Homo sapiens: one gene and its partner. The protein of the gene in region 1 purifies or fractionates together with the protein of each later gene. This does not show direct contact. Each region holds a gene or a part of one and is shown on either strand. Other genes may lie near its edges.

Evidence for each region. The genes of interacting proteins can lie anywhere in the genome.
Region 2: the proteins of ENC1 (region 1) and PLIN5 purify together in Homo sapiens (affinity purification with mass spectrometry; 2 studies listed by BioGRID and IntAct, with this or other methods). This does not show direct contact.

What each region holds. Positions count from the first base shown.
Region 1 is NC_000005.10:74,626,386-74,631,692, forward strand, and holds the end of ENC1 (ectoderm-neural cortex protein 1), read right to left. Parts: intron 3,608-5,307; 3' UTR 1,024-3,607; downstream 1-1,023. UniProt on the Homo sapiens protein: Actin-binding protein involved in the regulation of neuronal process formation and in differentiation of neural crest cells.
Region 2 is NC_000019.10:4,524,309-4,532,795, forward strand, and holds part of PLIN5 (perilipin-5), read right to left. Parts: intron 7,515-8,487; coding exon 7,319-7,514; intron 5,559-7,318; coding exon 5,476-5,558; intron 4,946-5,475; coding exon 4,765-4,945; intron 1,525-4,764; coding exon 1,325-1,524; intron 769-1,324; coding exon 655-768; intron 1-654. UniProt on the Homo sapiens protein: Lipid droplet-associated protein that maintains the balance between lipogenesis and lipolysis and also regulates fatty acid oxidation in oxidative tissues.

The sequences.
Region 1 (5,307 bases):
GATCTGTTCACAATCATGTCTACAGGAACCATTCTCAACCCCTCTAGGGATTAACATCAAGACTTTTTCCTGAGTCTAAATCCCATCCGTCAACTCCTAACTAACCCGCCGTTCTTCCCTGTCATTTGGTGTCATCCATATGGTGTCATCAACAGGGTTTCCACGGGTCTTCAACATCATGCACTTGGAATCTGAAGGCTGACACTGGTCCCCAAAGGCTTGGCTCTAGACCAGCCTCACACAGCACAGAACCGAATGATCCTCCTGTCAAACCCAAGGCATCTGCTCTGGCATCTTGGTCAAAGTCCAAAGGCTGTAATTGCATTATGCCTACTTGTGAGCTCTCCTAGAGTTCCCAATTAGGTAATATTTATTTTCTACCCAGAAAAGGTTATGCCCAACCTTGCTCTGCACACTGAAACAATAAGGGTTCCAACCCAAGTGATAAAGGAGCATCTCAGTGTGACATGAAGCCATCATGAGGTAGGGGCAGGAGGCTTCAACTGGCCTTATGCAGAGCCAGCTAGGACAGCCATCAGCTTGGAACAAACTAAGTATCCCTGAGGGGTTAAACTTGTGCTTTTCTGTGGCAGTACAGAAATAATATGCATATATTTCCACTTTAAATGATTTCTAAAGCAGATGTCAGCAGATGAAAAGAGGATTGAACTCCAGCTCCTTCTCTAACAGCTTTCTGTCAAAATATAACCCACGTGAGGATTTCAAAAAACTAAATTCATTCCAATATAAAGTATGCTGTCTTAATATCGCATGGTGTGTGACTTGTTATATTCCCAGCTATGAATAACCCATAAATGAGGAATTTTGTCTTGCTTAAAGAGATACTCTAATGGTCAGGAAGTTTTATTTAATATGCAAAATTACCTTTGTAAATATCACTAAATGGTGAAATAAAACACGTTCGGAATATCTGAAATGATCCTTCTTTGGATAAACGAGAAAAGGCACACGTTTACAATGCCTCAAATTGTGTCTTATTCAAATGAAGACCCACACACATAATGAAGAGAAAATCTCTAATAATTTATTGACCTTCAGTTTCACATTGTGAAAAAAAAAAAAATAACAGTTTTACAAAACCTCAAAATGTAGTCATAGCAAACAAGTACATATGAACATGAACATTTTCCTTCAACTTATACAGAGTTTTGTACGTGAACCACATGGTCAATAGCCAAGAGAGGGACATTATGCAGCTCTAATCACTCTTATTCAAGACAGGTGTCAAGCCCAAAGAAAAGGGGCTACACAATTATACCAGAAGTGGAGGGCTGCCCTTTGTTATGTGTTTCTACAGCAACCAGCCCACAAAATAAGAAGAACCTTCTCTGTCTTATGCCAAGGTTTTTGTGTGTACTGTGCTGTGAATTGTATTTGCTTCAAAGTGTGGGACGTTTCACAGGGTGAGAATGGTCAAGTAGTGAGACCAAATGCCTATATCGATTCAAAGAGTGGGAGTCCAGAAAGTTCCCTACAGGCTGGGGGCCCAACCCTTACCACAGCTCCCTCTGGCTCACACACAGTAATTAATAGAGGATTCAAGAACAGACCCCAACTTTGAAACAGCTGCAGAAAATTCATCCTGCTTTCAGAAGCCATGCAGTGACACATACATCTCTCTTGGCAGATTTGCATCATAAACTACAGAGCTGTAACTGCTACAATATAAACGACACTGACTATGCCCACTGGGGGACAATTAGACATTTGCATTGCTTAGAACACATCTAGGAACCAGGGACTGACTGCTGGAAAGTACTGTGATTCTTTTCTTCCAACAGCTCATTTATTTAGGCCCAACTACAGCCCACTCATTCATGGCATGGACGGACAAACACAATTAGTCTAAAGTACTAAGGTGGAGAGAAATGTTAAGGATTTATCTGTCATTAGACAATGCAAACACAGTCACAATGTAAAAGGTTGTTATCAGTCTTAACCCCTATTTTCTAAAATACAGCAATGTGAGAAACATGGACGAAAGCAGTTCGAGTTGCAAACTTTGGTCTTCCCCTGCACCTCAGGGGAAGCACCTATCTGAGACTAGCACTAATACCTACGACGGCACATGCTTAGTAAACAAGCACTCCAACTAGCAAAGAATGTATTCACAACTGATTTCCAACTCTACCGGAAAACTTCTCAATAGGGGCCACTGCCTACAATTCTTTGGTGTTTTGTGGCCAAATGTGTTACTTGTGCACCAAAGAGTTTTTTAAAAAGAGATTTGCCTACGGGTGAGCACTGAAGTATACATTGTGCCAATGTAATTATTGTCTTGGAGACCTTCTAGAACTTGCTAAATCATATAGCAAGAAGAGAATGAGTTCAGGCCCAGTAAATCTGGTGAGTTAATTTACATCTGTGATACTGCCGTTTTTCCCATTAAATGTGGTTATGGCAAAGCATTCTTAGGGTAATAAATAAATAAATAAACTTTGGACAATGCCTTTACTTGTGCCCTATATACAGAACTATTCCATAGAATTTTCCAGGATTTCAAGATACTACACAAAGAAAAAAACTGTAAAGCAATTTGGTCCTTTCCAAATTTCAGCAGCTGAGACTGAATTAAGTAAATCAGATGGGAGTGGGGAGAAGGGCAGAAAGCAGCCTCCCCTTACCCTATCAGCACAACCAAACCCCATGAAATCCCATTAAAAGTTGGTGAGTCTGAGAAAAGCGATCTCCACGGTTTCTCTACCTCTAGGATGTCATTTAAATTTCCATTTTGTCATCCTTCCCTGTCTTGACATTTTAAAAATCCACCCCTCCCCAACCCACCCTCCAGTTATGCTCCAAATTGTAACTCAAAAATTTTCATGTTTGTGCAGCAAAGCACATCTCAACAGCCACAAAATGTGCAAAACGTACAACCATTCACACACGTCCATACATGTGAAGACAGCTGTAGGCATTGTTTCAGCATGCAGGCATCGAACAATAAATAGCTAAATCTATAACAAACTTCTTAACAGCCAAGGGAAAGTTTAAAGTCACTTATAAATAGAAAAGAACATCTACCAAATGGCTACCAACAAAGTCCCCATTGTTCAGAAACGTTCCTGGGGAGCAGACCCCTTAGAGATTAACGGAGAGTCCAGTGGTCTTCATTCTTCAGCCAGCCCAGCCAGCTTCCCTCTCGGACCCACAGTTGGGCTTTGAATCTCCAGCAGCAGCTGGTGTGGAGGCTTCAAGCTCTGTCCTCAGAGAGAGGTGACAACCATTTCAAATTCTACACATAAATGGTGGGGCCCATGGAAATCAAATGCTGAATATGGTACAGCAAGGGAAAAGGTCCAGCTTTTCTCTCCCTTTGAGGGGCTGATTAACATTGACATTAATCCACAATTACAAGACAAGGACTAGATCACAGGTTTGTTCATTCATATTTAAACCATGTGCTACTTGCACCAAAAATCCCACCCCCCTCCCTCGCCCCTTTCCTTCATGTCCAGTTAGAGCATTTACAAGGTGCAGCAGATTTTATTCGAGTCTTGCAACTTCTTTTCCTTTTTTTCTCTTCATTAGACTTGGCCTCTCCGAAGTAGAAATCTCATATTATCTCATCGAGTGATGGAGTGAGCTGAAATAGAAGGAAAAGGAAAAAAAACAAAACAAAAAAGCATGAAGGATTTGTGTGATGCCATAGTTTTTAAATTTTTCTTATTAGCCACAAAATTTTTTTTTAAATTAAACTTGGTATGGAGCTGGACAATATTGCTTCCAAAGGTCTTACATGTTCAGTAGGAACTGTGCAAAGATATTTAAAGTACTTGCCTTAAATGCACACACGTGTGCACGTACACATCCATGCAGATGGCTGGCCTGACAAAAACAGTGGTGTCTAAAGAAGGACCTTCACTTCTTTCCTAAGCATACACACTTTCAAATCCAAACCTATATGTCTAGATGCTATTAGGAGTTGCCATCTTCTGCTTCCAACATTCATAAAATTTCTTTCTGTGGTTAAACAGAGCGACTGTAAAGTGATCACTAAGGGGTGAAAAGAAGGGAGATTCCTGTGCAAACCCTCCTTGGCCCATGTACCATGAAAGATTCCAAATTAACTTTACCATCTAGGAGGCAGACATACTAATCCTCTTATTTAAATGCATCTCTGTTATCCATTATGGCAGAAATCAGTCTCGCTTCCTTTCACATGACAATGTATCAGGCCTCAACAGCCCAAGTTTGGAGTTTATTCTCAAAGTTCGTCAGTCCACACGTAGGTGCCAGCAGCTACGGCATGCCAGTGCTACAGAATCTACGTACATCAAGTGTGAATATCAATTCAAAGTGCCGTAACCACAAAGCCTGCACATTTCATAGAGCTTGCATTTCCTCACACTGCTTACTCTTCCCATTTATTTATTTCTCATTTCATCTGGGGAAATTGTGCAGAGGGCTTTTGTATCCCTATTGCTGTAAGTCTAAGTACAGACAAAGGGAATTCTGGAGGAGCCACTCATGACCTTGCACTGAATTCTTTGCTTTTGTGTGTTCAGAAGCCTGATTCATTTCATGAGTTGTTTCTTTTGGCTGTTTCCTAACAGTGATTCAAGCTTTCAAGGCATGCCTTAGACTACGGTGTCATTGCCCCACCTCCACCTCCTTGTAACCTATATGTCAACATTAGGCCAAAAGAATGTATCTTATAATAATATAAAATTTCAAGACAATGCATATTCAAACAGGAAAAAAGGAATACACACACCCTCCCCCCAAAAAATTGCATATTCAAACAGGAACGATAATAAAAAAAAAAAGGACACACAACAACAACAACAACAACAAAATCTAGAGAAGAAACAAAGCAAATCAAAGCCTAAGTTAGGTTGAGGCCACACGGCACCATGAAAACAGAGGATAATCAAAGTAATTTCCTTTCTGCCCTTCCCACCCACTGGCAGAGCAGCAGGAGGCAGATAAAACCTCCTAGGTGGATGAGCTTTAAGACCTAGGGAAACTTTCTGTTAAACACTCTATTAATTCCGTTAGCACCTACATTTGGAGGGCAGAGGAATTTGCAGTTTGGGACTGAGACCCACCTACCCAGCACTTTAAGGCACTCCAACCCCCTCTTAAATGTTTTAGCACTATCTTGTGTAGTAAACTTTAGAAATTTTAACCAACATTCTCCCTGTCGGAAATTCAAAGAGTGGCTTTGATCAGGCGCTTACGCTGCCCTTTAAAAGCAGCAAACTTGGCCCTGTCAAATTTAGTTTTCATGTGCTTGACTCTCTCACTGGTAGCGCCAAGGGTGAAGAGGATGTTATTTCACAT
Region 2 (8,487 bases), on another chromosome or scaffold:
TGGGAGGCCGAGTCGGGCGGATCACCTGAGGTGCGGAGTTCAAGACTAGCCTGGCCAACATGGCGAAACCCCGTATCTACCAAAAATACAAAAATTAGCTGGGCGTGGTGGTGGACACCTGTAGTCCCAGCTACTTAGGAGGCTGAGACAGGAGAATCGCTTGAACCCGGGAGGCGGAGGTTGCAGTGAGCTGAGATCGCGCCACTGCACTCCAGCCTGGGCGACAGAGACAGACTCCTTCTCAAATAAATAAATATAAATAAAGTGGAAAGTGGAGAGATGGTTTCTAGGCTATAGGTTCAGGGAGAGAATGTGGAGGGAGGGAAAGCGAGAAGGGGCGGGAAGCCAGGGACTACTGCTTGCTTGGGCCAACACCCCCCTTTCCCCCCACCTCCCTCCATCTCAAAAATAAATAAATAATAAAATAATAAAACTCCATCTCAAAATAAATACATAAATAAAACACACAATGGGACTTAAACCTGCCTCAGTTTCCCCCCCCAGACACCTCAACTAGCTGAGCTCAGCACTTGGTTTGAGATAGCTTGAGTTGGGTCCCCGGCAGTACTGGGCTGACCCGCAGTCCGTCGCTCCCCCTCTTCCTCCGCGGCCTGGTGGCAGACACCACCTCACCTGGCACTCCTGCGGTCTCACCTGGCTCCGGCGGCGGCTCTCCGGAGGGCGCTGGCCCCATTCCCCCCACAGCTCGTGCACCTTCCCAGGGCAGGCCGGGGCGGTGGGGGTCACCCCACACTGCATGTGGTCTATCTGCAAGGACAGAAATGGTGGTCTTCAGAGCTGGGGGAGCTGGGGGAGCTGGGGGTCGGGGTGGGGTCCAGGACCACTGATCTGGCCTCAGTAAGCATTTAGGAGACCGAGGCAGGTTGTGCAGGGCCGTGGGGAAGACTTGGGCTTGGACCCCAAGGGAGGTGGGAGCCATAGAGGGCTGTGGGTAAAGAAGGGACAGACCTGACTCAGGGGCTCACAGGTGCCCTCTGGTGGCTGCTGCGGGGAGGGAAGAGCTGAGGATGGGAGGATTCTGATGAGGAGGAAGGCTCTCTTCTGACCTACCCTAACTTGCTATAAATTCCAGCTTCTCCTTCCCCTCTTCCACAAAACCCCTCCCTGACTCTCCAGGCAGAGCCATGACATCCCTGGGCTCCTCCAGGCCCGGGTCCCCCAGCCCTGAACACATGCAGCTGGAGACAGCTGCACCCAGCTCCGCCTCCTGCTTTAGGCTAGCACGGGATCCGGTATTCAGCTGGTGCTCAATCCATACTGATTGGCCTGCATCCCGGAGCAGGGGCGGGCAGCGGGCTCTCACCAGCTCCAGCGTCTCCTGCAGCTGGGCCAGGGTGTCCTGGGCACGGTGTTTGCTCTGCCTCAGTTTCCCCACAGAGTGCTCGTAGGCCAGGTGGCGGATCCGTGCTGACAGGGAGCCGAGGCGCACAAAGTAGCCCTGCTGTCTCCTCTGATCCTCCACCGAACCCACTTCAGGGCCTTCAGCCTCAGCCGCCAGTGCCGCTGGAGGACAGGATACGGGGACAGCACGGGGACAGGATACGGGGACAGCACGGGGACAGGATACGGGGACAGCACGGGGACAGGATACGGGGACAGCACGGGGACAGGATACGGGGACAGCACGGGGACAGCATGGGGTCAGCACAGCCACCCACCCCCTCCACATCTGCTCACCCACCTCTGGGTACAGAAGCCACAGGTTCCCACATTCACAGTTCCCCTTGACTGACATCAACCCATTTGGTCTTCCCCAAACCCTAAGATGTAGGCACTATGGTGGGCCCTGTTTTACACAGGAGGAAAACTGAGGCAAAGGAGAGGTGAGATCCTGCAGGATCCAAGAAGCAGACCCAGATTGGAACCCAGGCACGTTGGTCCCAAACTGCTTAACCATTTTTTTTTTCTTTGAGATGGAGTCTCGCTCTGTCCCCTAGGCTGGAGTGCAGTGGCACTATCCCAGCTCACTGCAACCTCTGCCTCCCAGGATCAAGCGATTCTCCTGCCTCAGCCTCTTGAGTAGCTGGGACCACAGGCGTGCACCACCACACCCGATTAAGTTTTGTATTTTTAGTAGAGACGGGGTTTCACCATGTTGGCCAGGCTGGTCTAGAACTCCTGAGCTCAATTGATCCGCCTGCCTGGCCTCCTAACGTGCTGTGTTTACAGGTGTGAGCCATCATGCCTGGCCTGCTTAACCATTCTTTTAAGCAGCCTTTTAAAAATATAGGTTGGGTGCAGCAGCATGCACTTGTAATCCCAGCACTTTGGGAGGCCGAGATGGGAGGATTGCTTGAGCCCAGGGAGGATTACTTTGAGACTAGCTTAGGCAATACAGCAAAAAACCCTGTCTCTAAAAAAGAAATACAGAAATTAGCCAGGGCTGGGCACAGTGGCGTGTGCCTATAGTCCCAGCTGCTTGAGAAGCTGAGGCAGGAGGATCAATTGAGCTCAGGAATTGAAGGCTATGGTTAGCTACGATCACACCACTGCCCTCTAGCCTGGGCAACAGAGCAAGACTCCATCTCAAAAAAAAATTAAAATTAAAAAAATGAATGAAAAATAATAAAAAAAGAGAAAATCCACACAAGATATGGTGGAAAAAAATAAAAAGAATATATCATAGTCCAGGCACAGCGGCTCACGCCTGTAATCCCAGCACTTTGGGAGGCCAAGGCAGGGGGATCACTTGAGCCCAGGAGTTGGAGACCAGCCTGGGTGACAGAACAAGACCCCATCTCTAAGAAAAAAAATTTTTTTTTTTGAGATGGAGTCTCGCTCTGTTGCCCAGGCTGGAGTGCAGTGGCGCAATCTCGGCTCACTGCAAGCTTCACCTCCCAGGTTCACGCCATTCTCCCACCTCAGCCTCCTGAGTAGCTGGGACTACAGGCACCCGCCACCACGCCCGGCCAATTTTTTGTATTTTTAGTAGAGACGGGGTTTCACCATTCACAGGATGGTCTCGATCTCCTGACCTTGTGATCTGCCCTCCTCGGCCTCCCAAAGTGCTGGGATTACAGGCGTAAGCCACCGCGCCCGGCCTAAAAAAAAATTTTTAAATCAGCCAGATGTGGTGGTGTGCACCTCTAGTTCCATTTGTCTAGGAGGATGAGGCAGGAGAATCACTTGAACCCAGGAGGCGGAGGCTGCAGTGAGCCAAGATCATATCACTGCACTCTAGCCTGGGCGACAGAGTGAGACTCCACTTCAAAAAAAAAAAAAAAAAAAAAAAAAAAACAACAATGGTTGGGCGTGGTGGACTCACGCTTGTAATCCCAGCACTTTGGGAAGTCAAGGCAGGTGGCTCACCTGAGGTCAGGAGTTTGGCCAACATGCAAAACCCCATCTCTACTAAATACACAAAAATTAGCCGGGTGTAGTGGTGGGTGCCTGTAATCCCAGCTACTTGGGAGGCTGAGGCCGGAGAATCGCTTGAACACGGGAGGCAGAGGCTGTAGTGAGCTGAGATCGCAACACTGCACTCCAGCCTGGGCAACAAAGTGAGAGATTCTGTCTCAAAAAAAAAGAAAAAAAAATTCAGGAGTGCCTGGCACACAAGAAGTGCCTGATCAATGCCTCACTGCCTTTTTTTTTTTTTGAGATAGAGTCTCGCTCTGTCACCCAGGCTCAAGTGCAGTGGTGCGATCTCTGCTCACTGCAAGCTCCACCCCCCGGGTTCACGCCATTCTCCTGCCTCAGCCTCCTGAGTAGCTGGGACTACAGGCGCCCGCCACCACGCCCGGCTAATTTTTTGTATTTTTAGTAGAGACGGGGTTTCACCGTGTGAGCCAGGATGGTCTCGATCTCCTGACCTCGTGATCGGCCCGCCTCGGCCCCCCAAAGTGCTGGGATTACAGGCCTGAGCCACCGTGCCCGGCCGCCTCCCTGCTTTTCTGCTGAGGTGGGGGTAAGCCCATACATTCTTCCAGTACTGTAAGGCCAGAGTTGGACATTCACATGGTCTCCAGGGCCAGGCAGGTACCAAAAACCATCAAAGTAGATATGACATAAACCACTGGGGACTAGTGGAGCTGAGCAAACCATCTGAAGGAGCAGACAATATTCTGGCTGTGTCTAGTTTTTCTTTTTTTTTTTTTGAAACGGAGTCTCGCACTGTGGCCTGGGCTGGAGTGCAATAGCGCGATCTCAGCTCATTGCAACCTCCACCTCCCAGGTTCAAGTGATTCTCCTGCCTCAGCCTCCCGAGTATCTGGGAATACAGGCACACGCCACCACGCCTGGCTAATTTTTTGTATTTTTAGTAGAGACGGGATTTCACTATGTTGGCCAGGCTGGGCTCGAACTCCTGACCTCATGATCTGCCCACCTTGGCCTCCCAAAGTGCTGAGATTACAGGCGTGAGCCACTGTGCCTGGCAGTGTGTCTGGTTTTTCAAAACAAGCCAAGAATCGGGACATGTAATGCAAAATCTGGTTGTTAAATGCATGCAAAGAATGAAAATATTTAAAACACGCTGCACAGGCATTTGGGGGCCACCAGTTTGGGACCTCAAGTCTAAAAGCCCTATATGCCCTTAGGGTCTGGGTGTTCTGACTCCTGGCGGGATGCAGGTTGAGGGGCCGTGGAAGTGACCGGGAGGGAGGACAGGCCTGGTTTTGAGTTGTATGTTTCCTGCTGATCTGCTGTGTGACCTTGGGTGAGTCTCAGACCTCTCTGATCTGTACCACAGGGGATGGGGACGGGGCAGGACTCAGGGGTTAGGGTTGAGGGTGTCGTCCTCACCGAGCTCTTCCTCCGTCATGGGCAGGAAGTGATCCACCAGCTCCTCTGATTTTTCCAGTACAACATCCACAGCATGGCTCACGGAGCGCTTCAGCTCCACGCTCCAGCGCCGGCCCCTCCGGGCCAGGTCCACCACACCCGTGACACTGCTGGCCACCACGTCCTTGGCTGAGGTCACCACCTGGAAGGAAGGGCCCCCCCACTCCAGGCACCGTGGGACTCCAGCTCCATTTCTGCCACCCTAGTTCCCTGGGGCTGGGACTCAAAGATCCCTGGACTTCTACCTGGCTCCGTGCCTCAGTTTCCCCTATAAAATGGGTGATAAAACCCTTCCCTCACAGAGGGTGTTGAGGGAGTTAACTGCCCTTACTAGCAATACATATGTATACACACATACATATACATATATACACATATACACACATATACATATATACATGTATATATACACATATACATATATACTTATACGTATATATACATATATACTTATACGTATATATACATATATACACTATACGTATATACATATATGTATACACACACACACACACACACACACACACACACACACACACGTTGCAGTTATTTTAACCTGGCTGTTTTTTCTTGAGTTAACTAAAAGCCTGGTTGTCACCATCCCTCCCTCCCTCCCGCCTCTAATCTGGCCTGCCCCCACTGGAGGTCCCCATGTCTAGTCGTCCGGGGTACCGTCTCCGAAGGTTGCTGGAGAAAGGGAAGCTTCTCTTCCAGCTTGTCCAGGCCCCTGCAGGCGAGGCTGTTCATAGTGGCCACTGAAGGGAGAGAGGCGGGGAGTGAGACTCGGGGAGACGCAGAGGGAGATAGGGACGCAGTGAGAGTTGTAGAAGGAGGGAATGCTAGAGAGAGAAGCAGAGACAGAGAAGGAAGGAGACCAGGATAAGACAGGGAGAAACAAAACGGAATGATGGAGACGAGACCCACACCAGGAGATGGACAGGCTTTCTGAGACCTTACACCAAGAAGCCGCTTACACCAAAGACGCTGGGGCAGACACCTGTGGCGCCTGGAGAGAGAGTCTACGAGGGAGATGGGGAGAAGGCCTAGACCACAGGGGGACCTGGCTGCCTCCCTAGGTGAGACTGGGGGCCCTGAGGGTGTGGGTAGGCCGCTGGGTTGGGCACTGCCTCCTCTGCCATCCTGCCTGGGCCCTGCCACCCACCCTGTTCTCCCAGCACCAAGGCGACTTTTCAGCCGTGCCCAGCTCAGATGGCCCAGCGGACAGACTCAAGGTCACAGAAGCTGGCTGAGAGGGAGGTGAGGAGGTGCTGGGCTAGGACCCTCAGGTGACCCTCTTCCTGGGTCAGACTAGAGGCCAAGGATCCTGTAGTCCCCCGCCTGTCATCGGCTCAGGGGTCCACAGAGATGTGAGAACTACAGAGCGGAGGCTGCGGGGCTTAGGACAGGCAGAGGCAGGTGCAGAGGGGAGGGGGCCTGGAGAGACAAATGGACCCAAGGCACATCAGGCCAACAAAGGAGGGGACACAGGGAGACAGATGGATAGGGACAGAGAGGAGGGGCCCCACCAGTAAACAGGTAAGGGCAGAGGGCCAGGGGATCAGATTTATTTATTTATTTTGAGACAGAGTCTAGCTCTGTCACCCAGGCTGGAGTGCAGTGGTGCGATCTCGGCTTGCTGCATCCCCTGCCTCCCAGGTTCAAGCGATTCTCCTGCCTCAGCCTCCCATGCAGCTGGGATTACAGGCGCCCTCCACCACGCCTGGATAATTTTTTGTATTTTTAGTAGAGTTGGGGTTTCACCATGTTGGCCAGGCTGTTCTCGAACTCCTGACCTCAAGTGAGTGATCTGCCTGCCTCGGACTCCTAAAATACTGGGATTACAGGCATGAGCCACCGCACCTATCAGGGGATCAGTTTTTTTTGTTTGTTTTTGCTTTTTTTTTTTTGAAATGGAGTCTCACTCTGTTGCCCAGGCTGGAGCGCAATGGTGCGGTCTTGGCTGACTGCAACTTCTGCCTCCCGGGTTCAAGCAATTCTCCTGCATGAGCCTCCTGAGTAGCTAGGATTACAGTTATGTGCCACCACACCGGGCCAAGTTTTGTATTTTTAGTAGAGACAGGGTTTCACTATGTTGTCCAGGCTGGTCTTAAACTTCTGACCTTGTGATCCAACCGCCTCAGCCTCACGAAGTGCTGGGATTACAGGCATGAGCCACCACACCCAGCCAGATTTAAAAAAAAAATTTTTTTTTTGAGATACAGGGTCTCGCTACGTTGCTCTGGCTGGTCTTGAACTCCTGGCCTCAAGTGATCCTCCTTCCTCGGCCTCCCAAAGTGCTGGGATCATAGGCATGAGCCACCATGCCTGGCTGGTGATCAGATTAAAGAAGGACTTAAGTGAAGAGATTGAGGACAGGTGGCATGGCAGTGGGACAGGTGGCTAGGCTGAAGATGACCCCCAGGAGTGTCATGCAGATAGACCAAGGAGGATGGGACAGGGGGCGGTGGGGGGGTGGCAAGCCACAGCTCCCAGGGACACGGGCCAGGGCACTCACGCTGGGGCTGCAGGTGCTCGAGCAGCGGCTGGGCGTGGTCCAGGGCACGGGTGGTCAGGCCGCACACGCAGTTCTCAGCCAGGCGGCAGGCGGAGCCCAGCAGCGGGTGCCTGTCCTTGGCTGCACTGTAAACATCGCAGACCGCGGTGCACGTGGCCCTGACCAGGGGCAGAGCCACCACACGCTGCACCACGTTCTGCGGGAAGGGTCGGCATCAGGGGGACCCTGGGGGAAGTGGGGCCCTAGCCACACCTCAACCTACTTCCCCTCTCTGGGCCAGGACGAGGGATGGGAGAGTGGAAGGATGGAGTACTGAGCACCCCGCCACGTAGAGGCAGTGAAGATAAACGTGGATGTGAGAATGTCATGGTTCCTGCACTCACAGGCTCCTCTTCCCATGGCGTACACAGAGCATTACAATTTTGTTTGTAATGGGGTTTCACTCTTATCACCCAGGCTGGAGTGCAGTGGCACCATCTCGGCTCACGGCAACCTCCTCCTGGATTCAAACGATTCTCCTGCCTCAGCCTCCCAAGTAGCTGGGATTACAGGTGCCCGCCACCACACCTGGCAATTATATTATAAGAGGGAGTCTCGCTCTATCGCCCAGGCTGGAGTGCAGTGGCACGATCTCGGCTCAGCGCAACCTCCGCCTCCCGGGTTCAAGTGATTCTCCTGCCTCAGCCTCCCGAGGAGCTGGAATTACAGGCATGCGCCACCATACCCGTTTTTTTTGTTTGTTTTGTTTGTGTATTTTTAGTAGAGATGGGGTTTCTCCACATTGGTCAGGCTGGTCTCAAACTACCGACCTCAGGTGATCCACCTGCCTTGGCCTCCCAAAGTGCAGGGATTACAGGCGTGAGCCACCGCGCCCAGCCAATTTTGTTTTTATTTTTATTTTTAGTAGAAACAGGGTTTCACTATGTTGACCAGGCTGGTGTCGAACTCCCGACCTCAGGTGATCCACCCACCTCAGGTGATCCACCCACCTCAGCCTCCCAAAGTGCTAGGATTACAGGCCTGAGCCATTGCACCTGGTCACAATTTTTTTGTTTTCAATAGAGACAAGGTCTTGCTCTGTTGGCCAGGCTAGAGGGCAGTGATTCAAGCACGGCTCACTGCAGCCTAAGCCTCCTAGCCTCAAGCAATCCTCCAACCTCAGTTTCCAA